Linked DNA regions of Homo sapiens: region 1 is linked to region 2. The links come from fine-mapping of genetic effects on gene expression. A gene starts in region 2. The other region holds a variant in brackets. All regions are shown on one strand. Distances are between the middles of the regions.

Region 1 (15,981 bases), 34 kb after region 2:
TGATTAAAAAAAACCCTTAGCAAACTAAGGCTAGAAAGGAACTTCTTTAATCAGATAAGGAACATCTAAAAATTTTTACAGCAAACATACTTTTTTTAAGATTTAATAATTTTTTTTTAAATAAATAGAGACAGGATCTCACTATGTTGCCCAGGCTGGTCTCGAATTCCTGAGCTCAAGCAATCCTCCTGCCTCAGCCTCCCAAAGTACTGGGATTGCAGGTGTAGGCCACTGTGCTCAGCCAAACATACTTAATGATAAGTTAGTGAATGCTTCTCCCCTGAGATCAGGAACAAAACAAGGATGACCACTATCACCACTTCTATTCAACACTGTCCTGGAGGTCCTAACCTGTGCAACATGGGAAGAAAAAAATTCATCTGCTATTTGCAGATGATATAGTTGTGTCCATAGGAAATTCAAAAGAATATACACATTACTGGATTGAATATGTGGTCTGATCAAATGATCCACAAAAGGTCATTTGATACAAAGCCAATATGCAAAAAGCAGTTGTATTTCTATATACCAGCAGCAAACAAATAGGAGAAAAAAAATTTTGCGGCAACATCTGAGCTGAAAAAAAAATTTTAAGTGATATTATTTAAAATACCTTAAAAAATTCTTAGAAGTAAATATAAGGAAAGATGTGCAAAAATCTCTACACTAGAAAACATAGGCTGGATGCAGTGGCTCACACCTATAATCCCAGCACTTTAGGAAGCTGAGGCAGGAGGATGGCTTGAGCTCAGGAGCTCAAGACCAGCCTGGGCAACATGGCAAAACCCTGTCTCTACAAAAATAAAAAATTAGCCAGTTGTGGTGGCTTGCACCTGTGGTCCCAGCTACTTGAGAGGCTGAGGCTGGACCGGAGGATCACTTGAGCCCAGGAGGTAGAAGTTGCAGTGATCCGAGATCACGCCAGTGCACTCCAGCCTGGGCAACAAAGCGAGACCCTGTTTCAAAAATAAATAAATAAATAAATAGGTAAATAAATAAATAGCACATTATTGAGAGAAACTTAAAAAGACCTAAGTAAATGGAGAGATTTATCATATTTGTGAATTGGAAGAGACAATACTATAAACATGTATTTTTCTCACCAAATTGATCTATAGATTCAATGAAATCAAAATCAAAATTCCACCCAGTTTTTGAGGAAACATATAATGATTCTAAAATTCATATGGAAATGAAAATGGCCAAGAATAGCCAAGGTCATCTTGAAGAAGAAGAAGACCAAGGCTGTAGGACTTAGCCGGATATCTATCCCTGTCATAAAGCTATAGAAATTAAGACACTGGGTATTGGTGCACGGATAGGCGAATAGACCAAGGGAACAGAATAGAGTCCACACATAGACCTCTCATAGACAGTCACTTCATAAAGGACAAAGGTATCACTGCAAGGCCATGGGGAAAGGATGCTGTGTCCGTTGGATATGTATTTGGAGAAAAGCTATTTGGACCCTTACCTCTCACTATACTAGTTCTAAAAGGAGGGCCGGCTCTGGTTGAATTTGGTTTTCTGGCTACTATCCTCCCCCATGCAGGGATGTGGGTCCCCTCATCGGCCATTACAAAGAGGCACACTAGGCGGCGCCCATGGCACATCCAAGCAGTCACCTGTTGCTCCCGGGGTCTCACTGGAGGGTACCTCCAGGGCTCATCAGCCTGCACATCCCAGGGCCCAAACGCCACCGCGACCTTTTGTCCCTCCCTGGGGTGGCCGAGCCTCCATGGCCATCAGTTGGGTCCTGGGCATGGTCGCACACTGCCTGCATGATGTCCACAAAGTAGTTTACCCACTCAACTTAGCTTCAGTTTCCCCCATGAAGCCCTGGTGCAGGATTCCCACGTGGATGCTGCGGGCATGACACCAACTTGGGTGAAGCAGGCAGAACATTCTTCCACAGAGGCATCCCCAACTATTTCTGTCTCTGTGGGAAGTTTGTCTTATTTTAAATTTTATATCCAATTTGCATTCTATTCCCCATCATATCCATGTTTGCATATAAAAATACATAATACTTACGCTCCTGAATCTTCTGGAAAGACTTGCCTTGTTTCTCTAGGGGTCTGATTTCCAGCTCTGCCATTTACTAGCTGGGTGACCTTAGGCAAGTTACTTAACCTCTCTGGATGTCCTCATTAGCAAGTTAAGGTTAATAAGTACCTGCCCCATAGGAGAGTGGAGTAAATAAAACGATGTCACTAAAGGTGCCATCTTAATAAAGGCTCAAGACCAGCAGCTGGTGTAAACAGTGCTGGCAGTGGAATTCCTGCTCCCACCCCACTGCAGCTGTCCAGGGCGCTTGCCTTTTTTTGTTTGTTTGTTTTGGTTTTGTTTTTGGAGACAGAGTCTAGCTCTGTCTCCCAGGCTGGTGTGCAAAGAGGCAATCTCAGCTCACTGCAACCTCTGCCTCCCGGGTTCAAGTAATTCTCGTGCCTCAGCCTCCCGAATAGCTGGGATTACAGGTGCATGCCACCACGCCCAGCTAATTTTTCGTGTGTTTTTAGTAGAGATGGGGTTTCGCTGTGCTGCCCAGGGTGGTCTTGAACTCCTGAGCTCAGACAATCTGCCCGCCTTGGCCTCCCAAAGTGCTGGGATTACAGGCATGAGCCACCGTGCCTGGCCTGGGGTGCTCACCTTTGAGGCGCCCAGTGATGTAGAGGAAGCCATCGGCGTCCAGGCGGCCAGCATCACCCGTGTGCAGCCAGCCTTCCTCGTCGATGGCCTCACAAGTCTTGTCCTCCATGTTCAGGTAGCCCATGAATATGGTGCGGCCCCACAGGCAGATCTCGCCAATGCCCTCTGCGTCCTGGTTCACCAGCTTCACCCGACAGCCGGGCACCAACTTGCCTGAGCTGGCGAGGGAGGGGCCGGGAGACTGGTCAGAGGGAGCCGTCTCCTCCAAGCCCCCACTGGGGAGCCGGGGTCCCAACTGCTCGGTCTTCACTGATTGCTAGAAGGTATCCCCTCACAGGGCTTTTGTATTTTTACAGGGGACTTACAGCTGAAAGGTAGAGCCAAGTAAAGGGTTTTAGGGAATGAAGGAAGGAAGGAACAAATGAAATGGTAATGGTAGAACTTGGAGCACTGTGATAGGCTGGCAGGGAGAGGAGATATTTAATCATAATAGATGATCCTGCAAATCACTCCCCAGAACTGACCGCCCTCACCGTCCATTAGGAGGCTGGCCTGGTCCCCCCAACTCCTACCCCAGCTGGCCCCTGGGCCATCTGCTCTCCTAGAACACACTGGAGCACACCCCACTCCAAAAGAGGGAGGGGCCAGAGGAAAACTGCTCCATAGGTTCAGGGGGCACCTGGGCTATGCAGGCTGTTTTCAACCACAGACTCACGACACGGTGGCAGAGGCCACTCCTACTAGACTGAGGATAAGCTAGGGACTTGGCCCAAGATGGCATTGTTGGCTCTCAGGGGCTCCATAGCCCAGTGGCCAGGTCTCTGGGACCCAACTGGCATGCAAAGAGAAGGGGATCCCCAGGGCACTCAGCAGGCGGGCACAAAGTACCAGCAAGGGCGCATGGGTGTGCATGTGTGTGGCAGCCTCGAGCCTCACCTGTACAGCCGGTAGTTGTAGGGACTGGACATGAAGTGGGGGCCTGAGGTCTCACTGAGGCCGTAGCCCGCATACAAGCGGATGTTGAGACCCAGGAAGAAGTGCTGTGTCTCTGCCATCATGGGGGCCGCTCCATAGAAGTTCTTTTGACACTTGGCAAATCCCAGTGCCTGGCGAACCTTGGCTAGCACCAGGTAATCTGCCAGTCTGGTTGTGAAGGGCTTCAGGTCGCTGGTGGGAGAGGGAGAATGGTTCACAGAAGAAATCACACACACACACACACACACACACACATACACACATTAAAAGGGTGGTATGGTGGTATTCAGTGAGAACACCCTGGCTCGGCCATTCCAGTTGTCTGTTCCAGTTGGTTGGTTTGAATATTGAACCTGCCCGTGAACATGCATGCAGATGTAGGTATGCAGGCACATGGTTGTGTGCAAATATGTCTTGACCCAGGAAGTCAAACAGATTCAGCTGTGTACAGGTGTACGGGCAACAACACAGACACATGCCATTTTGCACACACAATACACATGCACAGAAACTTGAAGTATGTATTCATGTATACACATGTACAAACGTGGGACCCCAGTGAAGCCCACAAATGCTTTGTTCGTGCATGTTCATGTTTCGTGTCTGTGCAAATGAAGCTGTGGATGCACAGATATGTGCACACATCTCATGAAACATACCATTTCACAGGCACATGGGGAATGGAAACTACTTCTAAATTGAAACCAAGCCAGCTTTACGTCACTGACCCTCCATAGAACTATGTGGGAATTTTGAAAGCTATAGAAAGATAGAAAGGGCAAAATATCTGAGGGGTCACTTGGGATGCTGAAAAGGCCGGAAAGGCTAAGTCCTGATCACTGTGGCCCCTTCTCCAGCCACTTACTGAGGTCAGGAGACCTCAGGAGATTGTGCCAGAAGCTGCTCCTAGGGAGGTGAATTTCACTTCAGAGAAAGCAAGTTACTCCTCCCAGTCAGAATCCAAAGGTGGAGCGACTGTCCCCAGCAGGCCCTGGGAAACGCACAGGAGCTCAAGCCCAGTCATTGATGGGGCCTCTGCACGGGGTCTCCAGAGCTGCCCGGCCACTGGAACCGGGACAGGCATGGCGTATCAGACCCTCACTGTGTTTTGGGTTATGACCCAGCCCACTCTCTCCCCAGGCCTCCCGCCCGTGGGCCCTCTGTACCTGCCGGGGCAGGTGAGGTTCTGCTCCAAGGTCACCGACATGGCCCACAGCAGCATCTTTCGCCGGATGAAGCCAGACTGAGCCGCCACCTCCTGGATGCGCTCCATGATCTTCTCCCATACCCGGGGCACCCCCATGTGTGATGTGGGCTCCACCTCCCGCAGCGTGTTCACCAGGCTCCCCTGTTCACACCAGAAGAGGCAGGCCTGTTGGGTCAGGGGCATCTGGGGCCCAGGGGTCCCCTCTTACCAGCCAGGCATGCCGGTGGCACACACATGCTCCAACGGGCACCCACACACACCTGCACGCAAGGGTGGCACATACTGTTTCCTCAATGGCTGTCGCCTTGCTTTTTGCTCACAGAACCCTGGTGGCAGGCAGCAGTCAGGCAGCCAGTGCTGACCTCAGTCTCATCCCAGCCCTGAGCATGGCAACTCTCCATGAGTCTAACTTAGACACAAGAATCCCATTCCCCTCGGCAGCATATGGTTTGAGAACAGACAGGTGACACTTTGGGACACTGAGATGCTGGTGGAGGGAAACTTGCTGGGGGGTTTCTGGGAAAGTTTTCCTCACAGTTAAAATAAGGGTCCAAAGAACAGGTATATCCTGTGAAGCTGGGATTCAGGGAAGGGCTGTAGCCTTCTGGTGATACTCTGAGGATGCCCGTCCTTGATCGTGTCACAAGTCCCGCGAACCACTCTGACTCGACCTTATGTAATGGCATCAGGTTTCTTTTTTTTTTTTTTTTTTTTTTTTGAGACTGGGCCATGCTGTTGCCCAGGCTGGAGTACAGTGGCGTGATCTCGGCTCACTGCAAGCTCCACCTCCTGGGTTCACGCCATTCTCCTGCCTCAGCCTCCCTAGTAGCTGGGACTACAGGCACCTGCCACCACTCCCATCTAATTTTTTGTATTTTCAGTAGAGATGGGGTTTCACCGTGTTAGCCAGGATGGTCTTGATCTCCTGACCTCGTGATGTGCCTGCCTCGGCCTCCCAAAGTGCTGGGATTACAGGCGTGAGCCACCGTGCCCGGCCTAGTTTCCCTTCTTGTTTGGTCATTCGAGTCAGGCTGTGCCCACTGCAGCTGACAGAATTCTGACTGATACATGCACAGGAACAGCACACACACAAATGCACTCAGGGCCCACAGACACATGTGGACGTGGCCTGGCACACGGGCTCAGACGGACACACGGTAAAGGCAGACTGACCTTCAGGGCGTCGGGTTCGGCAAAGCAAACCTGGGCCCCCCACTGGATGCCTGTCCACAGGTCGTAGATCTGGGCGGCAATATGGCTGAGGGGCAGGTAGCTGACTACCACCTCCTGCTGGACTTCTGCCGGCCGGATGTCACCGGCCTGGCTGCCGTACCGTGCCGTCCACGTGATCTGGAGGACAAGTAGATGGATCCCAGCAGTGTCCACAAGCCAGCCCTGGCGGTGCTCACAACTGTGGCCACCCTGGGGGCCAGCCCCAGTGTGGTGCCCCCTGTGGCGATTCTGCAGGCTCTGAAAACCCCAGGACAGGCCTCCCCTCCCCCTTGCTGAGCTCAGTCTGGGCCACAGATTGATGGGCTGTTCTACCTATCCCAGCTCCTAGAGCAGAGGGGCCCAAGGAGCTTTCCCAGGGGCTACTGGGGCAGAGCCATGGCCCAGATCCACCCATAACCCCCTTGCACCCCCCCCACCCCACCGGGCATCTGTCCTACATTGTCTTGACTCAGCATCACGCCCTTGGGGTTCCCAGTGGTGCCGGAAGTGTAGACTAGCACACAGCACTGGTTGGGCTGCTGGGTGTCAATGATGGCGTCCAGGGCTTCCTCAGGCACTTCATTCCCCAGCTCCATGAATTCCTCCATCTGTAGCCAGATGCAGGGAGCAGGCAGGCTAGGTCAGCTGGGTGGGCCCAATAGGCCCCACCTGGCGCCCAGGGCCCCACTGCCCATACCGTGTACACATTGGCCATCTTGTTTGGAGGAGGTTCTTTATATATCACGACTGCCTTTAGATGTGGCAACTGTTTCCAGATCTGCATTGACAGGAAAAATAGATCAGGTTTCAGTAAGAGAAATGTCACCTTCTAAAAAGTACCCCATCTCCCTGTGTGAGTCGGCTTAGTAAAGGTCTCTGGGTGCCCCGTCTCTGACCTTCGACCCCAGCAGGACAACTGCCACCCTTCACCCATAGTTTCCCTCCTGAGAACTTGGGAGCAGTAAAGGTGGGGATAGCCAGGGGACTGGGGATGACTCCCCATTGAAGGAAAACCACCAAACAAGCTGGGGCTTGGTTGAACAAACCATGATCCAGCCACACAATGGAGTAGTGCTATGTGACTGTAGGAGAAAGAGGGAGAGGAGCAGAGGGCAGAGGAGAGAGGGAGAGAATTCTATGTGCAGAGAGTGAGTGGTTTCTAGGATATATTATTAAGTGAAAAAAGGAAGTTTACAATATGCGCATAGTATGCTATATTTGTGTAAGAAAGGGGTGCAATGTAAATATATGTATGCAAACAAGTATTTACTTATGTTTACAAAAAGAGGCCGGGTGTGGTGGCTCACGCCTGTAATCCCAGCACTTTGGGAGGCCAAGGTGGGAGGGTCATTTGAGGTCAGGAGTTCGAGACCAGCCTGGTCAACATGGTGAAACCCTGTTTCTACTAAAAATACAAAAATTAGCCGGGTGTGGTGGTGCATGCCTGTAATCCCAGCTACTCGGGAGACTGAGGCACGAGACTCGCTTGAGCCCGGGAGGCAGAGGTTGCAGTGAGCCGAGATTGCTCCTCGGCACTCCAGAGAGAGACTCTGTCTCAAAACAAACAAACAAAAAGAAACTCGAAGGTTAAACCAAAACCTGATTGAATTCACTGTGTATAGGAAGAGCGGGAATAAAGGGAAGAAGAAAGGGATGGAAGCAAAAATTCTTTGAGTGTTATCTCACATGATTTTGACTTTGGAATCATGTAAATGTCTTAACCATTTGAAAAATAAAGTTATATGTAAAAGGAAGTCAGGTGTGGTGGCTCATGCCTGTGATCCCAGCTACTTGGGAGGCTGAGGCAGAAGGATTGCTTGAGGCCAGGAGTTTGAGACCAGCCTGGGCAATATAGTGAGGCCGTATCTTTGGGGCGGGGCGGGTGGGGCGGGGAACACTACAAAATTTTTAGAAAGGGAAAAAATGAGTTCCTAAAACTTGAAAACACTCTGAAAGAAATAAGTTAGCCCAAGATCAAGGAACCAGAAGAAAAAAAAAGAAAGAAATGAATTAGACTACATACTAAGTTAGTAACATAACCACACACACACAGAATTACATCAAGATCAAGGAATTTTATAATAGTACACTTTGATTCCTCTTTTTCAGTGGCACTCTAAAGGCAAAAAGGAATTTCAAATTCTATGCAATAGTCTTATTGGTTTCTGGGGTTTTGTTTTGTTGGTTTTGTTTGTTTTGTTTTGGAGACAGGTTCTTGCTCTATGGTATGATCATGGCCCACTGCAGCCTCAAACCCCTGGGCTCCCATGATCCTGCCTCAGCCTCCCGAGTAGCTGGGACTACATGTTCACACCACCACATGTCGCTAATTAAATTTTTCCTTTTTTTTTTTGTAGAGACAGGGGGGTCTCACTATGTTGCCCAGGCTGATCTTGAACTCCTGGGCTCAAGAGATCCTTCTGCCTTGGCCTCCCAAAGTGCTGGGATTATACGAATGAGCTGCTGCACCTGGCCTTATTGTTGGTAATAATA[C/T]TGATAATACTATTTCAAAATTATTTGATATATACTGTAGGATTATGTTAATCCTATAAGGAACTAAGATTTTAAGGTAAAATAAAAGAAATACAAGAATAAATAAAGTAAGCTAAAACCTCACAATATAACATTTGAAAAGTTATAGAAATAACAGAAATATCAGTGTGAACTCCTGATTTTTTGCTAAAATATATATTCCTGAGACTTCTGATTCTGATCACAAGGGAGTAACATCCATCGTTGCACTGTAAATACTAGGAAACTGGACAAATAGAATAGCTGGGTGGGCCCAGCAGGCCCCAGCTGGCGCCCAGGGCCCCAGTGCCCATACGGTGTACACATTGGCCATCTTGTTTGGAGAGAAAGCAATTGTTTTCAGATACTGGACTACAGACAGCTCAGGACTGATATCCCTGAGAGAGGGAAACAGATGGGGTGAGCCTCTAAGTGTGCCCCAGCTTTCTGCCCAGGGGCAATTTTTGAGCTATGGGAGAGACAGACAGAGGGAGAGAGAGGGAGAGAGAGGGAGAGAAAGGGGCGGAGGGGAGGGAGAGAGAGAGAGAGAGAGAGAGAGAGAGGAATACAGAACCCAGTTGTCTTACTGAGTTGAGGTGACCAAGATCAGAACTCAGGAAAGCTGAGGCGGCTAGAATTTGTGAGATAGAATACCAGCAGACAGGAGAGAACTATATAGAGAAAGAGTTCTAGAAATTCTTTTAGGGTCTTTGATTGACTCCCCATCTGCTCATGCATAGGGTGAAACTCCATGAAGCTGGAGGAAGACCAATGACCAGGGCTGGAAGTCAAACAGCAGCTGATGTAGGAATTGCTCATGTTTCCCCCCACCAGCATGGAGGGACCCCATCAGGCATTAAGCAGAGCCCAGAAGGGTCATGTCTTAGTGATGAGGCTAAATTAGCCTTAGAGTAAAGACTACCTAAAGGCCTGGCCTAAAAAGCCTTAAACATAGCCTCAAAATAAAGTTCAGAAAGAAAAAAAAATGGAAAAAAATTACTTGTGGGACAATATCAAAAAATCAAATATACATGTAATTGGAGTCCCAGAAAATTTTTTTAATTGAAAAACAGTCTGAGAAATTTTCAAATATAAATTGGTGGATTAAAACTATAAATCTACCAATTTCAGAAGGTGAATGACTCCTAAGCAGAATAAACACAAAGAAAACCACCTTAGGATACAACATAACCAAATTGCTGAAAATCAGCAAAAAAGGAAAAAAATCTTAAAAGCAGCCAGAAAAACAAAACACTATGTGGAGAGGAACGAAAATAAGATATCGTAGACGTCTTGTTAGAAATGATGCAAATAGAAAACATTGAAATGAAATATTTAAAGTGCTGAAAGAAAAAAAAACCCACCCTGTGAACCCATAAATCTAAATCAGATAAAATGACTTTTAAAAAATGAACAGAAAAACAAGCACCTTTTCAGACAAAGACAAGCTGAAAGAATGTATTGCCATCAGACCTGTATTATAAGAAATGTTAAAGAAAAGTTCTTAGTCTCTTTGTAGGTCACTCAGGACTTGCTTTATGAATCTGGGTGCTCCTGTATTGGGTGCATATATGTTTAGGATAGTTAGCTCTTCTTGTTGAATTGACCCCTTTACCATTATGTAATGGCCTTCTTTGTCTCTTTTGATCTTTGTTGGTTTAAAGTCTGTTTTATCAGAGACTAGGCTTAGACTCCCACACAATAATAATGGGAGACTTTAACACCCCATTGTCAACATTAGATCAACGAGACAGAAAGTTAACAAGGATACCCAGGAATTGAACTCAGCTCTGCACCAAGCGGACCTAATAGACATCTACAGAACTCTCCACCCCAAATCAACAGAATATACATTTTTTTCAGCACCACACCACACCTATTCCAAAACTGACCACGTAGTTGGAAGTAAAGCTCTCCTCAGCAAATGTAAAAGATCAGAAATTATAGAAACTGTCTCTCAGACCACAGTGCAATCAAACTAGAACTCAGAATTAAGAAACTCACTCAAAACTGCTCAACTACATGGAAACTGAACAACCTGCTCCTGAATGACTACTGGGTACATAACGAAACAAAGGCAGAAATAAAGATGTTCTTTGAAACCAACGAGAACAAAGACACAACATACCAGAATCTCTGGGACACATTCAAAGCAGTGTGTAGAGGGAAATTTATAGCACTAAATGCCCACAAGAGAAAGCAGGAAAGATCCAGAATTGACACCCTAACATCACAATTAAAAGAACTAGAAAAGCAAGAGCAAACACATTCAAAAGCTAGCAGAAGGCAAGAAATAACTAAAATCAAAGCAGAACTGAATGAAATAGAGACACAAAAAACCCTTCAAAAAATTAATGAATCCAGGAGCTGGTTTTTTGAAAGGATCAACAAAATTGATAGACCGCTAGCAAGACTAATAAAGAAGAAAAGAGAGAAGAATCAAATAGACACAATAAAAAATGATAAAGGGGATATCACCACCAATCCCACAGAAATACAAACTACCATCAGAGAATACTACAAACACCTCTACTCAAATAAACTAGAAAATCTACAAGAAATGGATACTTTCCTTGACACATACACCCTCCCAAGACTAAACCAGGAAGAAGTTGACTCTCTGAATAGACCAATAACAGGCTCTGAAATTGTGGCAATAATCAATAGCTTACCAACCAAAAAGAGTCCAGGACCAGATGGATTCACAGCCGAATTCTATCAGAGGTACAAGGAGGAGCTGATACCATTCCTTCTGAAACTATTCCAATCAACAGAAAAAGAGGGAATCCTCCCTAACTCATTTTATGAGGCCAGCATCATCCTGATACCAAAGCCTGGCAGAGACACAACCAAAAAAGAGAATTTTAGACCAATATCCTTGATGAACATTGATGCAAAAATCCTCAATAAAATACTGGCAAACCAAATCCAGCAGCACATCAAAAAGCTTATCCACCATGATCAAGTGGGCTTCATCCCTGGAATGCAAGGCTGGTTCAATATATGCAAATCAATAAATGTAATCCAGCATATAAACAGAACCAAAGACAAAAACCACATGATTATCTCAATAGATGCAGAAAAGGCCTTTGACAAAATTCAACAACCCTTCATGATAAAAACTCTCAATAAATTAGGTATTGATGGGATGTATCTCAAAATAATAAGAGCTATCTATGACAAACCCACAGCCAATATCATGCTGAATGGGCAAAAACTGGAAGCATTCCCTTTGAAAACTGGCACAAGACAGGGATGCCCTCTCTCACCACTCCTATTCAACATTGTGTTGGAAGTTCTGGCCAGGGCAATTAGGCAGGAGAAGGAAATAAAGGGTATTCAATTAGGGAAAGAGGAAGTCAAATTGTCCCTGTTTGCAGATGACATGATTGTATATCTAGAAAACCCCATTGTCTCAGCCCAAAATCTCCTTAAGCTGATAAGCAACTTCAGCAAAGTCTCAGGATACAAAATCAATGTACAAAAATCACAAGCATTCTTATACCCCAATAACAGACAAACAGAGAGTCAAATCATGCGTGAACTCCCATTCACAATTGCTTCAAAGAGAATAAAATACCTAGGAATTCAACTTACAAGGGACGTGAAGGACCTCTTCAAGGAGAAGTACAAACCACTGCTCAAGGAAATAAAAGAGGATACAAACAAATGGAAGAACATTCCATGCTCATGGGTAGGAAGAATCAATATCATGAAAATGGCCATACTGCCCAAGGTAATTTACAGATTCAATGCCATCCCATCAAGCTACCAATGACTTTCTTCACAGAATTGGAAAAAACTACTTTAAAGTTCATATGGAACCAAAAAAGAGCCTGCATCGCCAAGTCAATCCTAAGCCAAAAGAACAAAGCTGGAGGCATCACACTACCTGACTTCAAACTACACTACAAGGCTACAGTAACCAAAACAGCATGGTACTGGTACCAAAACAGAGATATAGATCAATGGAACAGAACAGAGCCCTCAGAAATAACACCGCATATCTACAACTATCTGATCTTTGACAAACCTGAGAAAAACAAGCAATGGGGAAAGGATTCCCTATTTAATAAATGGTGCTGGGAAAACTGGCTAGCCATATGTAGAAAGCTGAAACTGGATCCCTTCCTTACACCTTATACAAAAATTAATTCAAGATGGATTAAAGACTTAAACGTTAGACCTAAAACCATAAAAACCCTAGAAGAAAACCTAGGCATTACCATTCAGGACATAGGCATGGGCAAGGACTTCATGTCTAAAACACCAAAAGCAATGGCAACAAAAGCCAAAATTGACAAATGGGATCTAATTAAAGAGCTTCTGCACAGCAAAAGAAACTACCATCAGAGTGAACAGGCAACCTACAAAATGGGAGAAAATTTTCGCAACCTACTCATCTGACAAAGGGCTAATATCCAGAATCTACAATGAACTCAAACAAATTTACAAGAAAAAAACAAACAACCCCATCAAAAAGTGGGCGAAGGACATGAACAGACACTTCTCAAAAGAAGACATCTATGCAGCCAAAAAACACATGAAAAAATGCTCACCATCACTGGCCATCAGAGAAATGCAAATCAAAACCACAATGAGATACCATCTCACACCAGTTAGAATGGCAATCATTAAAAAGTCAGGAAACAGCAGGTGCTGGAGAGGACGTGGAGAAATAGGAACACTTTTACACTGTTGGTGGGACTGTAAACTAGTTCAACCCTTGTGGAAGTCAGTGTGCCGATTCCTCAGGGATCTAGAACTAGAAATACCATTTGACCCAGCCATCCCATTACTGGGTATATACCCAAAGGACTATAAATCATACTGCTATAAAGACACATGCACACGTATGTTTATTGCGGCACTATTCACAATAGCAAAGACTTGGAACCAACCCAAATGTCCAACAATGATAGACTGGATTAAGAAAATGTGGCACATATACACCATGGAATACTATGCAGCCATAAAAAATGATGAGTTCATGTCCTTTGTAGGGACATGGGTGAAATGGGAAATCATCATTCTCAGTAAACTATCGCAAGAACAAAAAAACCAAACACCACATACTCTCACTCATAGGTGGGAACTGAACAATGGGAACACATGGACACAGGAAGGGGAACATCACACTCTGGGGACTGTTGTGGGGTGGGGTGAGGGGGGAGGGATAGCTTTAGGAGATAGACCTAATGCTAAATGACGAGTTAATGGGTGCAGCACACCAGCATGGCACATGTATACATATGTAACTAACCTGCACATTGTGCACATGTACCCTAAAACTTAAAGTATAATAATAATAAAATAAAATAAATAAAAATAAATTTAAAAAAGTAATTGGCAATAATAAGTTTTGGTCTGTACATTTCATACATAAATGTGGGATGTTGAATATAAAAGAACAAACAGAATAGTTGTAATAAAATACTAATACAAATCTTTAAAAAAAAAGAAAAGTTCTTAAGGCTGAAAAGATGATATCAGATAAAAACTTGGATCTACATAAAGGAAGACAGAGTATCAGAAATGGCAAAAATGTGGGTAAATATGAAACATATTATTTCCTTCTTTAAAATTTTCTCTGAAAGATACTCAGCTGGACTGGGTGCAGTGGCTCACGCCTGTAATCTTAGTACTTTGGGAAGCCGAGGTGGGCAAATTGCTTGAGCCCAGGAATTTGAGATGAGCCTGGGCAACATAGCAAGACTCTTGTCTCTACAAAAAATACAAAAATTCAGCTGTTGTCATCCATTTTACTTCTATAGAGGTTATAAACCCCACAAACATTGTTATTACTCTTGATTTCAACAGTTGAGTATCTTTCCTTCTTTCTTTTTGTTTTTTTAAGACAGGGTCTAACTCTGTCACCCAGGCCAGAGTGTAGTGTTGCAATCATGGCTCACTGCAGCCTCACATGCCTGTAGTCCCAGCTACTTGGGAGGCTGAGGTGGGAGGATTGCTTGAGCCCAGGAGGTTGAGGCTGCAGTGAGCCATGATTGCACCACTGCACTCCAGTCTGGGTGACAAAGTGAGACCCTGTCTTAAAAAAAAAAAAGAAAAAAGAAAGAAAGATACTCAACTGTTGAAAGCAAGAGTAATAACAATGTTTGTGGGGTTTATAACCTCTATAGAAGTAAAATGGATGACGACAGCTGAAAGGATGGGAGGGGAAGTGGAAGTATACTGTTGTATGGTTCCACATTTCATGGGAACTGGTATCTTGGAGAGTACACTGTGATAAGTTAAAGATGCATATTGTAAAATCAGAGCAAACACTGATATAGTAACAAAGGATAGCTAATAAGCCACTGAAGATCAAATGGAAGACCAAAAGAAAACAAGATAAAAAAGACAAAAAAGTCAGGAAAGAGGAGAAAAGGAACAAAGAATAGATGGGACAAATAAAAAAATAGCCAAATGGTGGCTATTTATACAAATTTCATCAGATTGGATAAAAGGGCAAGACTCAACTATGTGCTGTCTACAAGAAACTCACTTTAAATATAAAGACACAGCTAGGTTAAAATTAAAAGAACACAAAAATACATAATGCAAACATTAATTATCAGAAACCTGGAGTGGCTATATTAATTTGAGGCAAAATACTTTTGGAACAAGAATTATTACCAGGGATAAGGAGGAACATTTCTTAATGATCAAGGGTTAATTTATCAAGAAAACATAATAATCTAAACACGTATATGCCTAATAACAGAGCTCCAAAATACATAAAGCAAAACCTAATAGAACCGGAAGGAAAAATAGATGTCTACCATAATAATTGGAGATTTCCACATTCCCTTTCTTAGTATTTGATAGAGCAAGAAGACAGAAAATCAATAGAGATACAGAAGACAACATTAAAATACTACCAACCAACTTGATTTAATTAACATTTATAGAACCTTCTAGCCAACAACTGCAGAGTACACATTCTTTCAAATATGCATGGAACATTCACCAAAATTGATCATTATTCTATCACACCTACTCTGTACAAACAGAGTGTCTCAGGTACCAAAGAGCCCCAGGTAATGAGGGAAAGTTCTTTCTTTGGAGAATTCCAGCCAATGAATTAGAAATTCAACATTTTGCTACACCTAATAAAATAATTAATTTCAGGCAAACATCATCAAGGGATGCTAAAACCATCAGGAGAAAGGTTGATGGGGAATTTCACAGTGGAAGAAGAGAAGGTGGTCATGAAGAAGCCCAACATAACTGAAAGTAGTACCACCTGCCATCATGTGCCTCTTGAGGCGGTGCATTATGAAGGACATGGTATCACCTATGGGGTGACATAATGATTTAAAAGCACTTATATGGTGCTGCCATGGGTTGAATTGTCTCCCCCTCCACAACCCGCCGCAAAGAGATATGCCAAAGCCCTCATAGCTGGTACCTCCAAGTGTGACCTT
Region 2 (15,981 bases):
GGGAGGATTGCTTGAGCCCAGGAGTTCCAGACTAGCCTGAGCAACATAGCAAGACCCTATCTCTACAAAAAATTAAAAAGTTAGCTGGGAGTGGTGGCTCATGACTGCATTCCCAGCTACTTGGGAGGCTGAAGTAGGAGGATTGCTTGACCCTGTCTCAAAAAAAAGAAAGAAAAAGAATTTTGCTTGACCCCATACAACACACCTGTATTCATCTGCATTTGTGAACGTCACCATCACTGTGATTCATGGTCTATTAACATCTACTTTTTTAGCTCTTATTTTTAAATGTCAAAGATAAAAACTGTGGCCTGAATATTATCATACCTCTCTCAAATCCAAACTTACTTGTTATAAGTAGGTGCAAGCATGTGACTGCTTCATAATGTCTTTTAGAGTTTAGGCCTGAGCATTTATGTATTGAAACCCATTATTTTATTACAGTATTCCTTTTATTTCTCTTTCATATTACAGTAGCAGCATTATATTGATTTTGTTTTTTCATTATGTGTATAAGTGGTTTAGATTATCCATGAATTTCGTTTCAGTATGGTAAAGAGGATATTCAAAATATTTGTTATAAAAAGGGAGCATCTGGCAGCATTGAGAACCACTCTAAGGTTCAGGAGGCAGGGACTTCGCCTCCCCTGGGTTACTCCATTCTTCTTTGTGCCTAGCATAGGGCCTGGAATATCACAGATGCACAAAGAATCTTTTCTGAATGAGTGATGAAGGAATTGAGGCTGATACTCTGGTTTGGTAACCACCTAGGTATGTGATGAGGCCCTCTGCTGAGATGGGAACACAGGAGAGAGGGCAGGTTTTGGGGAGAGTAATGAGTTCAGTTTTCATTGTGAAAGTTTGGAGAGCCCTGGAATTTCTAGGTGGAGAGGCCTGAGGCCCAGGGCTGTGTGGGCCTTGATTTCTCTCAAGGCCACAGAAGAGTGGAAAGTGCAAAGTCGTAGTAACAGTTCATCTCTTTAGTCAGTAATCATTGCTGAGTCTCTCCATGCAGGATGAATAGACCAGTGAGAGCTGCCCATGAGGTGTCTCCCTCCTCCTGTGGTGATCTGTGTACCTGCCCAGGCCCTCAGAGGCTAGGAGCTCCTCCAAGGTAGGGGATAGAAATCCTTCATCTCTAGCCCCTCTGACTTCCTGCCCCATCCTGACATAGTAGGTGGCTCGGCAATGATAGCTGGAGGGACCACGCAGTAAAACCCATCTGTGGAAACACATGTATTCAGAGCAACTTTTTTTGGCCTGAAGTCACTGCAGTGGAACATTTGGGAGCAAGTTTCCCCAGGGCCCAGCTCCTTCCCGCTAGGCTCTGCCATGCCTCCTGTTTATTAACAGGGAGGCGTGACAAAGGGAAAAATCTCCTGATTGAAGACTCATCTCAGACATCTTTTCACTCCTCTAGGGAAGGGTGCAATTCTGGGCTTTAATGACATATGACGGGGCAGGCAGTAGAGGTGTTGCGCATTTTAGGCAATACATGTGCTGCTAGAAAGTTGAGGTATAGGGACTTTTTAGGAACACAATTTTTATTGACAAGTAACCTTTCAAGAACAATAAAGAAAATCAGAAAGAAAACCTATGTTCATAGCAGCATCATTCATAATAGCGAAAACAACTCAAATGGCCATCAACTGACGAACGTATGAATAAAATGTGGTCTATTCATGTGATGGAATATAACTTGACCGTCATGAGGAATGAAGGACTGATGCATGCTATGATATGGATAAGTCTTGAAAACATCATGCTAAATGAAAGAAGCCAGACACAAGAGACCAGATATTTTATGACTCCGTTTATATGAAATGCCCAGAGTAGGTGAATACATTGGGATGTAAAAGAGATTGGTGGTTGCCAGGGTCTGGGAGAGGGGAGATGGGGAGTGGCTGATGGAACAAGCCATATGGAAAAGCATTCCAGGCATTGGGAGCAGTAAGTGCAAAGGCCCTGCAGTGGGAGGAAGCATGGCCGATTAAAGAACAGCAAGGAGGTAGGTCGGCTTCAAGGGAGACAGTGGTGGGGGAGAAGCTCAGAGAGGGGCTAGCAGGACTAGACCCTTTAGGGCTTTATGGGGCACTGCCAGGGCATTGCCTTTTACTTGGAGAGAGACAGGATGTCGCTGGCAGCTTTGGGCAGAGAAGGATGTATCTGTCTTATGTTTGAACACAATCCCTCTGGCAGGAGATGGATTTTAAGGGGTAGAAGTAGGGAAGCCAGTTTGGGGGCCACTGTGTTGGTTCAGGCAAGAGGTAACTCTGACTTGGACCCTGGTGGCAGCAGCTGCCAAGGGGAAAAGTGTCCAAAACTGAACCTATTTTGAAAACAGCTCATCTTCAGGCTTTTGGCCTCAGCAACTAGAAGGCTGGAGTTGAATTTTATTGGGTGGGGGAATTCTGTGGGAGGGAGCAGGTTTCCTTCTACTCTTTGTTCACATATAAAAAGAAGTTATAAGAGAACATAGATAATAGTTTAAATTTTTATTTTTTTCTGAACATTCAACCATAAACATTTATCAAGATGCTAAAGTCTTCATAATACTCACTTTAAAAATGTTTTTTTTGGCCAGGCGCGGTCGCTCATGCCTGTAATCCCAGCACTTGGGAGGCCGAGGCAGGCGGATCACGAGGTCAGGAGATCAAGACCACCCTGGCTAACATGGTGAAACCCTGTCTCTACTAAAAATACAAAAAATTAGCTGAGCATGGTGGCGGGCGCCTGTAGTTCCAGCTACTTGGGAGGCTGAGGCAGGAGAATGGCATGAACGCAGGAGAATGGCGTGAACCCAGGAGGCGGAGCTTGCAGTGAGCCAAGACAGCGCCACTGCACTCCAGCCTGGGCGACAGAGCCAGACTCCATCTCAAAAAAAAAAATTATTTTTTAATTTTATTTTTAGAGATAAGGTCTTCCTCTGTCATCCAGGCTGGAGTGCAGTGGTGCAATCATGGCTCACTGTAGCCTCTAACTCCTGGGCTCAAGTGAGCCTTCCACCTCAGCCTCCCAAGTGGCTGGGACTACAGGTACATGCCACCATGCCTGGCTAAATTTTTATATTTTGTAGAGACTATGTCTTGCTATGTTGCCCAGGCTGGTCTTCAACTCCTGGCCTCAAGTGATCACCTCGGCCTCCCAAAGTGCTGGGATTGCAGATGTGAACCACCATGCCAGGCCATTGATCACTTTTGAAGGCTGCATGATGGTCCACTTCATTCATTTCCCCTAAATTACATAACCATTTCTTCTGTTAATCATTTAGACTGCTTTTTTCTCTTTTTAGTTTTCAAAATTAAGGATAATTGTATAATGAATATCTTTGTGTTGATGGCTTTTTCTTTCTGGATTTTTTTCCCCAAGAGTTTAATTCTCAGGAATGGATTTACTAGGTGAAAGAGTAAGAACAGTTAATGTCTCTCTTAAGACACATTGCTAAACTGTTTTCCAAAGAGATTGTGGAAATGTATAAGGCCAGCCAAGCAGTGCGCCATAAATTGGATGGTATAAGGCATTGCATTTTATTAATATTTTTAAATAAAAATAATTTTTTTTAGAAATTTGCATGCATTTGACTATTGTTAAGATTGAACATTTATTTAAAAGTTTATTTGGCTGTGAATTGATTATTCAGGTCCTTTTCCCGTTTTGTTTTGTTTTTTTTTTTCCCGAGACGGAGTCTTACTCAGTCACCCAGGCTGGAGTGCAGTGGTGTGATCTCGCCTCACTGCAACTTCCACCTCCCAGGTTCAAGTGATTCTCCTGCCTCAGCCTCCCCAGTAGCTGGGACTACAGGTGTGCACCACCATGCCTCCCTAAGTTTTGTATTTTTAGTAGAGAGGGGGTTTTACTATGTTAACCAGGCTGGTCTTGACCTCCTGACCTTGTGATCTGCCCGCCTCGGCCTCCAAAAGTGCTGGGATTACAGGAATGAGCCACCATGCCCGGCCTATGTTTTTTGTTTTGTTTTGTTTGAGACAGAGTCTTACTCTGTCGCCCAGGCTGGAGTGCAGTGGCACGATCTCGGCTCACTGCAACCTCGGCCTCCCAGGTTCAAGCAGTTCTCTGCCTCAGCCTCCTTTGTAGCTGGGATTACAGGTACCCGCCACCACGCCCAGCTAATTTTTTGTATTTTTAGTAGAGACAGGCTTTCACCATCTTGGCCAGGCTGGTCTTGAACTCCGGACCTCGTGATCCACCCACCTCTGCCTCCCAAAGTGCTGGGATTACAGGCGTGAGCCACCGCGCCCAGTCCCCTTTTCCCATTTATTTACTAAAGTCCTAATACCTTCTTTACCAATTTGTTGGATCTTTTCCTAACTTAGAGATAGGGATGAACCCTTTGCCAATCATATCTTTAATGAAAATAATATTTTAAATAAAGTAGGAAAACTGTTGAAATGAATTTCTTTTGTAACAAAAAATAAACATTTGGTATGTGAATAATGTATATTCTGTTTTGCTGATTTATTCACTTAAAAATTGCTATCTTGATTTTATTATTTATTTATTTGACACAGAGTCTCGCTCTGTCACCCAGGTTGGAGTGCAGTGGTGCGATCTTGGATCACTGCAATCTCCGCCTCCCAGGTTCAAGTGATTCTCCTGCCTCAGCGTCCTGAGTAGCTGGGACTACAGATGCACACCACCACCCCTGGCTAATTTTTGTTACTTTTAGGAGAGATGGGGTTTCACCATATTGGCCAGGCTGGTCTCAAACTCCTGACCTCAGGCGATCCACCCACCTCTGCCTCCCAAAGTGCTGCGATTACAGGAGTGAGCCACCGCACCTGGCCTCTTGATTTTAAAATCTTTTTTTTTTTCCTTAGAGTGAAGCACACCTGGATTGGATAGTGCTTGTTATTACAGATAAGGGTGCACTTTCTAGATTCTTCTCCTGAGTGGCAAAGTTTTCCCACCGTCTTGTCCAAACATACTTTGCTGATGGTATCTCTGGGCACTACACAGTGCAAGGGACAAGGAAAAAGGGCTTTTCCAGAGGAGAGTGACCTGCATCTTGGAGGAACTCTAGAACATGTTCGAGGAATGGTGACTGGGGCTTCTGGAGCCAAGGGCTGACTCAGGGAACAGATCTCAGCTCAAGGTGAGGTCATTTCTGTTTCCTGCATGTCCCTCCAGCTGCTGACATTTTACCTCTTCAAGGACTGATTCAAATGCCATCTCCATTGTGCAATCTTCCTTGATCACCCCCCAACTTCCATCTGAGACTTCTGAGTTTCTCCCTCACTAGATCTGGAGGGTAGGAGTGGGTCTTGTTCATTTTTTGTTCTCACAGTGCACTTGCTAGAGAATGGCTTGGGAAGCCTTTGTAGGATTGGACTGGCCCTCAGCGAAAGTTCAGCAGTTAGGAGAACTGCCTTAGTACTTAGGAAGCTTCCTAGTGTGAATGCCAGCATCATCACTTACTAGCTGTACTTCAGTTTTCTCATAGGGTTGTTGTGAAGATTAAATGAAGACTGGACAAAGTCAGTCAATGTTTATTTCACAATCACTGAGCAGCAAGTATTCCTTGTGTACCAGTCTCTGTTCCAGAAACAACGTCATAAGAGATCATCAAGATTATCTCTGGACTTAAGGCATATCTTCTCTCTATCTCTTTTGAGACAGAGTCTCGCTCTGTCACCCAGACTGGAGTGCAGTGGCATGATCTCGGCTCACTGCAACCTCTGCCTCGTGGGTTCAAGCGATTCTGATGCCTCAGTCTCCTGAGTCACTGGGATTATAGGCATGTGCCAACACGCCCAACTAATTTTTGTATTTTTAGTAGAGACAGGGTTTTGCCATGTTGGCCAGGCTGGTCTCCAACTCCTGACTTCAAGTGATCCACCTGCGTCGGCCACCCAAAGTGTTGGGATTACAGGCGTGAGTCACCACGCCTGGCCCAAAGCTTATCTTCTCAATGGCACACAGCAGAAGAGAATGTGATGTTTCCCAGGAGAGGTGGGAGCCAAGTGCTAGAGGGCTCTGAGTAAGGAGAGGGGGACACATTCGTGGGTCTTGGGGGCTTTTACAACTTTTACTACTTCCCAACATGTAAGCTGAGTCTTGACAAGGAGCTAGAATTTCAGCCAGTAGAAGTGGGGCAAGAGGGCATTGAGGCTGAGGGAATGGCACGACCATAGGCACGGAGAGGTAAAATATGGGAAGCATTTGGGGGCTGGCCAGCAGTCCTAGTTGGCAGGCGCTCCAGGTCTTTGGGGCTGGAAGGAGTGGTGGGAAATCAGGCTGAAAAAAGACAGTGGTGTGAGAGGAGAGTGCAAGGGAGAGCCAGGAGGTTTCAGAGCCGGGGCGAGCCCTGGTCAGAGCTGTGCCTGAAGGGGAGGGCAGGTTGGCAGGTGAAGAGGCTGTTGTAAGAGCCTGGGCCTGAGGTGGTCTGGCCCGAAGGAGGGCAGGGGTGACATTGGGGATGGAGGAACTGTGGGAGAACACTTCAGGATGGGACTGCCAGGGCCTGATGAGGGGAAGGGGCCCAATGGAAAGGGGTTGATAAAAGCCCTCCTTCCTGACAAGGCCACAGACTTAGCTGCAGTTTATTATTTAGGTCATAAAAGCTCTTGGGATCACTTCTCTACTGCACTCATCACCTCTCTGGGTGGGTAGGCAGCTCCTCTCTGGATAGAACTCTTCCCAGGGTAGGGTAGCAGAGACCTGGTTTAAACACCTGACCTCCCCTGGCACCCAGCTAGAGGCCTGGCCATCAGCAGGAACTCAGGAGTTTGTGATGGACAGGGAGAGGACAAGGGGAAAGGTGAGTATGGATGTTATTTCTTCAGAGAAGCATTCCCTGACCTCCAGGTTAGGTTTGAATCAGGTTGCCTGATTTTGCCTTGCCATAGCTCCTTGCTCTTTTGCTTCTTGGCGCAACAGTTTTAATGACATGTGTGTGACACTTGATTGAAGCCTGTCTTTCCTACTGGACACTAAGCCCCAGCACTTAAAACAGTGCCTGGTGTCTAGTTGACCCTCAGAAATATTTGTTGAGCTAAATAGACAGATTAGTAGTTGCCTGGGATTGAGGACAGGAGCGGGATTGACTATAAACGGACACAAGGAACATTTTCATATGCTCAAAAACTGGATTGTGGTGATGGTTGTGCAACTGTTTACATTTACTAAAAATCATCAAACTGTACACTTACAGTGAGTAAATGTTACTATATATACATTATACCTCAATAAAGCTGGTAAAAAATAAAATTCGGCCAGTCGCAGTGGCTCACTTTGTGAGCCTGGGGCAAGCAGATCGCTTGAACTCTGGAGTTCCAGACCAGCCTGAGCAACATAGCGAGGCCCCATCTCTACGGAGAAAAAAAAAAAAAAAAAAAAAGAAAAAGAAAAGAAAAAACAAAGTTGGGCTGGGCTTAGTAATTACTTGATCCCAGGAGGTCGAGGCTTTGTAGTGAACCTGTTCGCGCTACTGCACTCCAGCCTGGGCGACAGAGTGAGACCCGGTCTCAAAAAAAAAAAAAAAATCAAAATTTGTGGAATAAGAAAATTATGTGTCTTTCTCCACGGGATTGTAAATTCTATGAGGAGCGCTATATCCCCAAGATCCTAGAACATTAATCAGCACCTAGTAGGTGTGGAACAAACGTCTTACCTTAACAGCGAGTCAATGAACCAGGGAGGGGAGGAAGAAGCTTTCCCGGAGATGCCGGCCCCTCAGTTTCCGGGTTCGCCTGGCGCTCAGCCAGGCCAGTCACAGAGAGACGAGCCCGGCGATTCGCCAGCGGAATGTCCAGGGGCGGGGCAGCGAGCGAGCGCGAAGCAATCCTGAGGCGGTCTAGGGGGCGGGGCGTTCAGGGGGCGTGGCCGTGCAGGGGCGGGCTCCGAGCGTGGGGTGGGCGCTTGCGCACTGCCGCTGCGGCTGTTGCTGCGGAGCCAGGAGGGGAAGCGATGGCTGGGCCCGCGTGGATCTCTAAGGTGAGCGCTGGCAGGCCGGCGTGTGGCAGGCAGGCAGGCCGCGAGGGCTGGCAGGAGAGCCGGTCGCGTGCCGGGTGTGGGCGGGCGCGTGGGCCAGACAGGGAGGCGGTGGCTGCCCGCGGGGACAGCTTGGGAGCCGGTCCTGGTCGCCCGTGCCCCGCGCTCCGTGGCCGGCTCGCAGTGTATGGGCCGCCCCGGGCCGGGTCAGCAGCGCAGAGGCGGGGACGGCGTCAAGGTCAAGGCGGGGGGGCGCCGGCCCTGCTCCTGCCGAGACCCGGCTGCCGTCACCCGCATCCGCCCAGGCCAGAGCCCAGGCTTCGCGCCGAGCCCGGGAAGGTCACGGGAGCCTCTGTCCCGGCTCCGCCATCCGGGCCGCTTCCCCGGCTGCGGCCCTGCTGCGGGACTGATCCCCTCAGCACTGCCCACACCTCTCATCCGCTGTCTGCGCGGCCCTTGGCCGGGGAACCGCAGGTGCCACGGGCACTGGCGTTGAGCTTGGGAGGTTTTCCCAGGTGAGAGAATCCGGGGGCCCTTTTCCCTATCAGATTGTTTTCCCTTTGGCGCTCTTCCCAGTCAGACCTCTAGTGCTCTTGTAGCTATTTCCCCTTCATAGGATAGGGCATCTTACACCTCGGAATTACCGTCTGAACCTTCGGAGAGAGAGACCAGCAGAGCCTTCCTTTTACCTTTCATTGGTGGGAATCCTGCAATCTGGAGCGCTTTAGCTCTCCTTGACAGCTCAGATGCCAGAGCTGGAAAGGGTTTCAGATCATCTATGCAGTTCCGTAGCTTCTCAGTGGAACTAACCTGTGCCTGAAGAAGAATTTGCTCAAGGTCACACAGGAGGTCGGTGTCAGAGCAGGGAGAGGAACCTAGGTGTCTTGGTTCCCATTTCCCAAGGTCACATAGCAAATGATGGTACAGGCCATCAGGCCTCAAGTCTCCTGTTGCTATGAAAGGGTGGTCCCCTAGAAATCTATAAACAATTTAACGTTTTTCTGTAAGTTTGATACTACTTTTCTCCCATTTTTTCGGTTTAAAGAGAGGTCCAGAGATGCACTGTTATTTAAGGAAAAGATCTCTGTACTGGAATTTAGGAGTCTCAGATTTAAATCCTAGCAATGCCACTGATTGGCTGTGTGACCCTAAGCAAATTACTAAACATCTCTAAGCCTTAATATGCCCATCTGTGAATATCTATACTTACATCACAGAATTGTTTGAGTATTAAATAAAATAATGTATGTGAAAGCACTTGGTATGTACAGAAGGAAAACAAAAATCTGAAGCTTTCTTATCAATATGTTTATCTGTCTCCAACAGACAGTGGTTTTCATGGGCATCATTAACTGGTTTTTTTGTTCAATAACTAGATTCTACTTTGTCACCCTCTTCAGACCCAGATTTGCTTGTGATGATAACTCTTATGTCACATTTGCTCCTAAAAGTAAAGCAACTTCTGTGTCACTGTGAAAACTGAACTCAGTCCTTTAATCTCTGAACTTACATTTAACACCCAATTCATCTTTGGTAGGTACATTTGCCTTCACAGTGAGGCACTAAAGCAACACTTGATAATGATTGTGCTGGTAAATCTGTTTTGCCTTTAGTGTGATCTGCATGAAAAAACCCTCATAGTAGGTATTCAGAAAGTGTTGGGTTGTGGAGTCAGAAGATGAGGTTCTCTGACATGCACTCCCTGTGTGACCTTTGGCAGAGTCATTTGACTTCTGGGCCAGCTTCTCACTTTAGGGATTGGAGCAGAAGGTGGCTCAGAGGCTGACCCCAGGATGGTGGAGGTGCTGAGCTGGATGCCGGTTTCAATCAGGACAGTTCCTCTGTTGAGTTTCCATTTCAGGTTGTGGCCAGGCATGGTGGCTCATGCCTGTAATTCTAGCACTTTGGGAGGCCAAAGTGGGCGGATCACTTGAGGTCGGGAGTTCAAGACCAGCCTGGCCAACATGGCGAAACCCCATCTCTACTAAAAATACAAAAATTTGCTGGGCGTGGTGGCGCACGCCTGTAATCCCAGCTACTCGGGAGGCTGAGGCAGGAGAGTCACTTGAACCCAGGAGGTGGAGGCTGCGGTGAGAGGAGATCATGCTCCTACCTGGGTAACAGCAAGACTCTGTCTCAAAAAAAAAAAAGATTTTTTTTTTAAAACCCATCTCAGAACCCATGTACAACACTATTTACATGTTTTTAAGTTAAAAAGGAAATGAGTTGTGGATTAAGATGGCCCACGACCTGAAGTCCAAAGTTCAGGGTTTTGGTCCAGGCTTCATGAACCTGGCCTCAGTTTCCTCATCTGAAAAGTGCCAATAATGCCTATCTCTACAGGTTTTATATAAATAAAATGATGTGAGATATATATATATATATGCATATGAGTATTCTATAAAGTAGAAGTCCTGCCATCTCAGCCTTCCATGAAGCTGGGACTACTGGTGTGTGCCACCATACCTGGCTAACATTTAAAATTTTTTTTGTAGAGGTAGGGTCTCACTCTGTTGTCTAGGCTGATTGGTCAGGTCTTCTGTCACAGAGACATAAGCTAGTTTTGTGTGAATGTCTTTTCCCTCTTTTTTGGGCTGGGAGAGGAGAAAGGACTCATGTCAATTTTTTTTTTTTTTTTTTTTTTTTTTGAGACAGAGTTTTGCTCCTGTTGCCCAGGCTGGAGTGGAATGGTGAGATCTTGGCTCACTGCAACCTCCACCTCCTGGGTTCAAGCGATTCTCCTGCCTGAGCCTCCCAAGTAGCTGGGATTACAGGCACCCACCATCACACCCAGCTGATTTTTGTATTTTTATTAGAGACAGGGTTTCACCATGTTGGCCAGGCTGGTCTTGAACCCTGACCTCAGGTGATCCACCGGCCTCAGCCTCCCAAAGTGCTGGGATTACAAGCGTGAGGCACTGCGCCCGGCCTTTTTTTTTTTTTTTTTTTTGAGATGGAGTTTTGCTCTTGTCACCCAGGCTAGAGTGCAATGGCGCGATCTTGGCTCACCGCAACCTCTGCCTCCTGGGTTCAAGTGATTCTCCTCCCTCAGCCTCCTGAATAGCTGGGATTACAGGCATGTGCCACCACGCCTGGCTAATTTTGTATTTTTAGTAGAGACAGGGTTTCTCCATGTTAGTCAGGCTGGTCTTGAACTCCTGACCTCAGGTGATTTGCCTGCCTCAGCCTCCCAAAGTGCTGGGATTACAGGCGTGAGCCACCGCATCCGGCCTCATGTCACTTTTATGCTCTGCTTGTCACGAAGTAACCTTTAAATGGTGCTTTGGAAAATTTTATTTTACTTAAAGTTCTGGGTCATTGTGATGACTTAGGTGCAGTACTGCTTTATTCTAAGATCATGCAAGAGAGATGACAAACATGGAAAAGACTGGTCCTTAAAGAAGATCATTGCAAGTATTAAGGCTACTTGTTGGCTTGGAAACTCTTCAGATAGAGATGTGACTGAGGCTGGACTCAGTTTTGTTTGATTGTTGTTTTGTTTTTTTTTAAATTATTGAATACCTTCTATGAGCCAGGGACTGTTCTAGACACTAGATACAACAGTGAACAAAACACAAATCCTTACACTCCTGGGTTTACATTGCTGCCCCCAGCATATGCAGGTAGGATGGGTTTACATTTTAAAATCAGTTGTTTGAGTCGGGTCTTTTTCATTCTTTCTTTCTTTTTTTCTTTTTTTTGTCCATTACCTAGGCTGGAGTGCAGTGGCATAATCATAGCTCACAGAAGCCTCAAGCTCCTGGGCTCAAGCAGTCCTGAGCTCAAGCCGACTTAGCCTCCCATGTAGCTGAGACCATTGGTGTGCACCACCATACCTGGCTAATTTTGTAGAGACAGGGTCTCACTTTGTTGCACAGCCTGGTTGGTTGGGTCTTCTGTCACAAGGACATGAGTTTTGTGTGAATGTCTTTTCCTTCTTTTTTGTTCAGGGAGAGGAGAAAGGACACATGTCAATTTTCTTGTCACAAAGTAGCCTTTAAATGGCCTCCCTTCCAATAGCCCACTCGCTGGTGGATGAATCATGCCCTAGGATTAACATTTTGGCCAATGGTTTTGGCATTCTTTTGGATTTGGCCCAGTCTTATTTTCAATGCAGAGTCATGACTATAGATACCAGAAGATTAGAGAATAAAATTCATTCATACCTTTCTTGGCTGTTGGTTGTTACCAATAAATATTTCAGCAAAGGTTCAGACCCCAGAAAAAAACATCAAGATAGGATATAACAAATGTGTCTTTGCTCATGTATCTAGCAGGAGAAAAAGTTACTTTTTAAAAAATTTAATGCAGCCGGGTGTGGTGGCTCATGCCTGTAATCCCAGCACTTTGGGTGTCCAAGGCAGGTGGATCACCTGAGGTCAGGAGTTTGAGACCAGCCGGGCCAACATGGAGAAACCCTGTCTCTACTAAAAATACAACAAGATTAGCCGGGCATGGTGGTGCATCCCTGTAATCCCAGCTACTTTCAGGAGGCTGAGGCAAACCCAGGAGGTGGTGGTTGCAGTGAGCCGAGATTGCACCATTGCACTCCAGCCTGGGCAACAAGAGTGAAACTCTGTCTCAAAAAAAAAAAAATTTAATGCATTTTAATACCTTTGGTCTATGTACCCAGTTTCTTTTTTTATATTGTTTATAATAATGTAGTATGACTTTGTACCAGTTCTCAAGGACTAAGTTATTAAAGTTTATAATAAACCTTTAAAATTTATATTTCTGGCATATGATGTTAATTGGAGAGAGAAAAAAAAAAAAAAACACGTACCAGTGGTAATATCTTGGTGTGGTGGGATTACTGGGTAACTTTTATTTTATATTTTGTATCTTTTCCTAGTCCCAGCAAACTGACAGTAATGACCACATTACCTATATTATCAGAAGAAGCAGTAATTTATTTAAAATCTTTATTCTGTATGGCATGGGCATCAGATGGTATTAAATAAACTTTCTTAGATTTTACTATAAAGTGTAATTTCTTAATATTCACAGAATAGATATAATGTATAATTGAAGGAGCACTGGACCAGGAGTCAGAAGACCTGTATGTGGGTTTCCATTTTGCCAATTATTCGCTGTGTGACCTTAGGCAAATGCTTTTCTTTGGGACCAGCATCTCCGCTTATGAAATAAGCAAGTTGCCAGGTGTCGTGGTGCACACCTGTAATCCCACCTACTCAGGAGGCTGAGGCAAGAGGGTCACTTGAGCCCAGGAGTTGGAGACTGCAGTGAGTTATGATTGTGCCTTTGAATAGTCACTGCACTCCATCCTGGGCAACCTAGGGAGACCCCATCTCAAAAAGCCTAAAACAACAACAAGAAATAAGTGAGTTGTGCTCTGGATTTCATGAGGAACATCCTGGCTCTAAAATTAATGGTAATTTTCTTAGAATATATGTTACCCCTAAATTGACCGAATGGTCAAGAATGTTGGCACAAAATGATCCACTCATCTGAGAAGAATCTGTATGTTGAGCTGAAAAAGTAGTTTTATTCTACCTTCAACATCTTTTATTTGACAACTTATATTCGTTAAATTGACTTTGAAAATATACAGTACTCAATCTAAAGTAAAAATCTGAGTATTTAGGCTTTCAAATCTGAGATAGCTTGCCACATTGAGCTAATACATGAGATTTGTATTCCTGGGAAGCTACTGAATATATCTGTGCCAAGTTGCAGCATTACCATCCATCAGGACTTCCTCGCTCTTGTTTACTGTATGTGGTTTAATTCTGTGTGTGATATTTCTCTGTTGATATTAATATAGGTCTCTCGGCTGCTGGGGGCATTCCACAACCCAAAACAGGTGACCAGAGGTTTTACTGGTGGTGTGAGTATAATTATGTCTTTTATTTTTTCCTTTTAGAAGTTTCTCAAGAAAGATGCTCTAACATATTTATTATATAGCATTTTATCTCCATTCATTTAGAATTTGGGAAAATTGGCCATATTTATAATGTATGTTGAAATTACTGGCTGACATGCACAAATCTGTTAGGTTACTTGCGCATTTGAAAGAATTATCTTACAGCTGGCTATGTAAGTTTGTCACATTAATATCTTGAGGGAGCCTTGTTAAAAATAGAAAGTACCCTTGAGCCTGTTATTTTATTTCACAATCTCATTTTGGTGAGACAGCTTTTTTCAAAACTAGTACAAGTTGAGAGAAAATTGTTGAGAAGCTTCAAAACCTGCTTTGCATTTTTATTTTATGGGCTTCCCTAAACCCAGTAGATTGAGTGCCAATTAGGAATGCCTCGAACATCTATAAGCCTTGTAGGCTTATACTTGCCTTATATAGGCTTTGTAGACTATCACAGTAGTAGATCATCTATTGTTCATTAAATCTGCTGCTTTTAGAATTCCCAGCATCAGAATTCTGTGCTTTAAAAGCTGATACCACATTTTTGGAACATTCTAAGACTGTGGGTCAGTGACTTCCTATTTGTTTTGATCCCCGCCCCGCCTTTTATGGAATCTGATTTGGATTTCATAATTCCTATACTCCCATATAACATCTATGCCGTGAAAGATTTATAAGACCATAGTACATTTTTTCCTCCATTTACTTTCTGTATTGTGGAAGAAAAGCAGATTTTCTGGTGACTGGATGACATTTATTATTACATGTTGGGAGAACAGGAAGAAGTAGCCAAAGCGTTCTTTTGGCTCTGCTTATGCCAAAAATGCAGGATGGGGCTTGCACTTCAAGCTCAAGGATAGCCATGCTAGCATTTCAAACGCATTCTGAAAGCTAATAAGATGATCATTGCTCTCTGCTATTATTTAATTTTCAGGCTATTTATTTGAAAAAAAAATTAGCTTGATGGAGGAGGTTATTTTTGAAGAAATAAGAGGATGTATTAATTTTTTTAAAGACTTCTTCAACCCGAGAAAACTGGTATGAGCCTTAGCCCTGGCTAAGACTGAGGTGGGAGATTTGCTTAAGGCCAGGAGTTCGAGGCTGCAGTGAGCTGTGATCACACCTGTGAGTAGCCACTGTGCTCCTGCCTGGCAATGTAGTGAGTCCTCATCTCTAAAAAATAAAAATTGAAAATTAGAAAAATGAAAAAAATAAAAATGTTTCTTCAGTTGTACAGAAACTAATCAGAAATAATTAGTCCACGTATCTGGGCAGACATCATTGGAAGGCAAAGGACCAAGGAAACTTGAATTAGTGACTTTTTAAAAATGCAGTTCAAGCAACTAGAACTGAAAAAAAGCCAAGCCCCTAGGTGGGGTAAAGTCCCAAGATAATAAAATATGTGGTTCCCAAATGGAAAAAGAGGTGCTGATCTTCTCCCTTACATATTTTTATTTCTGCATTTGAAATGCTGGCTTCGTTTTGCCTGAAGCCTTAGAATAAATCATTGCTGTTACATTATAAAAACAATAATTGTCATTCTAAGTGTGACTCAGGCTTTGCAGGTATGATGACATATACTATTCTTTTTGGTTGCAGATCAACTTTGCCAAGCTTATGTAGATTACTCTTAGATTTAAGCAGACAGTTTTATAGAGGAACTAAGAAAAAAATGGAAGCTCTCTTGATAAAAAGTCTGATTTTCCCTGAGTACCAAAACAGACCTCAGTAATATTTTGGAAATGTGTCTGAAAATGTTTTGCAAGACTGAAGAAGTTGCATGAGAAGCTTTCCAGGATCACAATGGAAAGGAAAGGAAAACACTTGCCTTCATGAGAAACCGTCTAAATTTTAGTGAGAGAACATTGTTAATTTTTTGTTGTTGTTGTCTTTGGTTTAAAAGATTTGAATTAATTGGTCTCTTTGCAGCTTGTCTGAAAAGAAATATCAATTAGGAAATCTACTTGGTAGTTTAATTTATTTTCGTTTTATGTAAAGAGTATCATTTGGTTCTTTTTAAAACCTCTGAACTCAGGTAAAGAGTAGGATTGCAGAGTCTCTCCTCTGTTGATTCCTGCCTCCCCTTTGATGACCCCCGGGGAGGTATGTTTGTTTTCTTAACAGCATTTGAATCTTCCTGAGACATCTCATAA

What was found. PIP is the estimated chance that this variant, and not a neighbour inherited with it, causes the effect.
Region 1: its variant is fine-mapped to the expression of IDH3A in whole blood (TOPMed, PIP above 0.99).

What each region holds. Positions count from the first base shown.
Region 1 is chr15:78,175,965-78,191,945 of GRCh38, forward strand. ACSBG1 (acyl-CoA synthetase bubblegum family member 1) reads right to left here. Exons shown (of 14, transcript NM_015162.5): 6 at 6,741-6,821; 7 at 6,502-6,651; 8 at 6,005-6,181; 9 at 4,791-4,972; 10 at 3,586-3,816; 11 at 2,650-2,867. Among named protein-coding and RNA genes, the nearest start is that of IDH3A, 35 kb to the left of the region's middle. The variant C/T (reference allele first, on the strand shown) is at 8,537.
Region 2 is chr15:78,141,481-78,157,461 of GRCh38, forward strand. IDH3A (isocitrate dehydrogenase (NAD(+)) 3 catalytic subunit alpha) reads left to right here and starts at 7,882. Exons shown (of 11, transcript NM_005530.3): 1 at 7,882-7,950; 2 at 13,733-13,795. The coding sequence starts at 7,924. It overlaps LOC124903534 (a long non-coding RNA gene), which reads right to left and starts at 7,739. Exons shown (of 2, transcript XR_007064725.1): 1 at 7,628-7,739; 2 at 1,799-6,252. RefSeq lists a silencer at 7,842-8,421.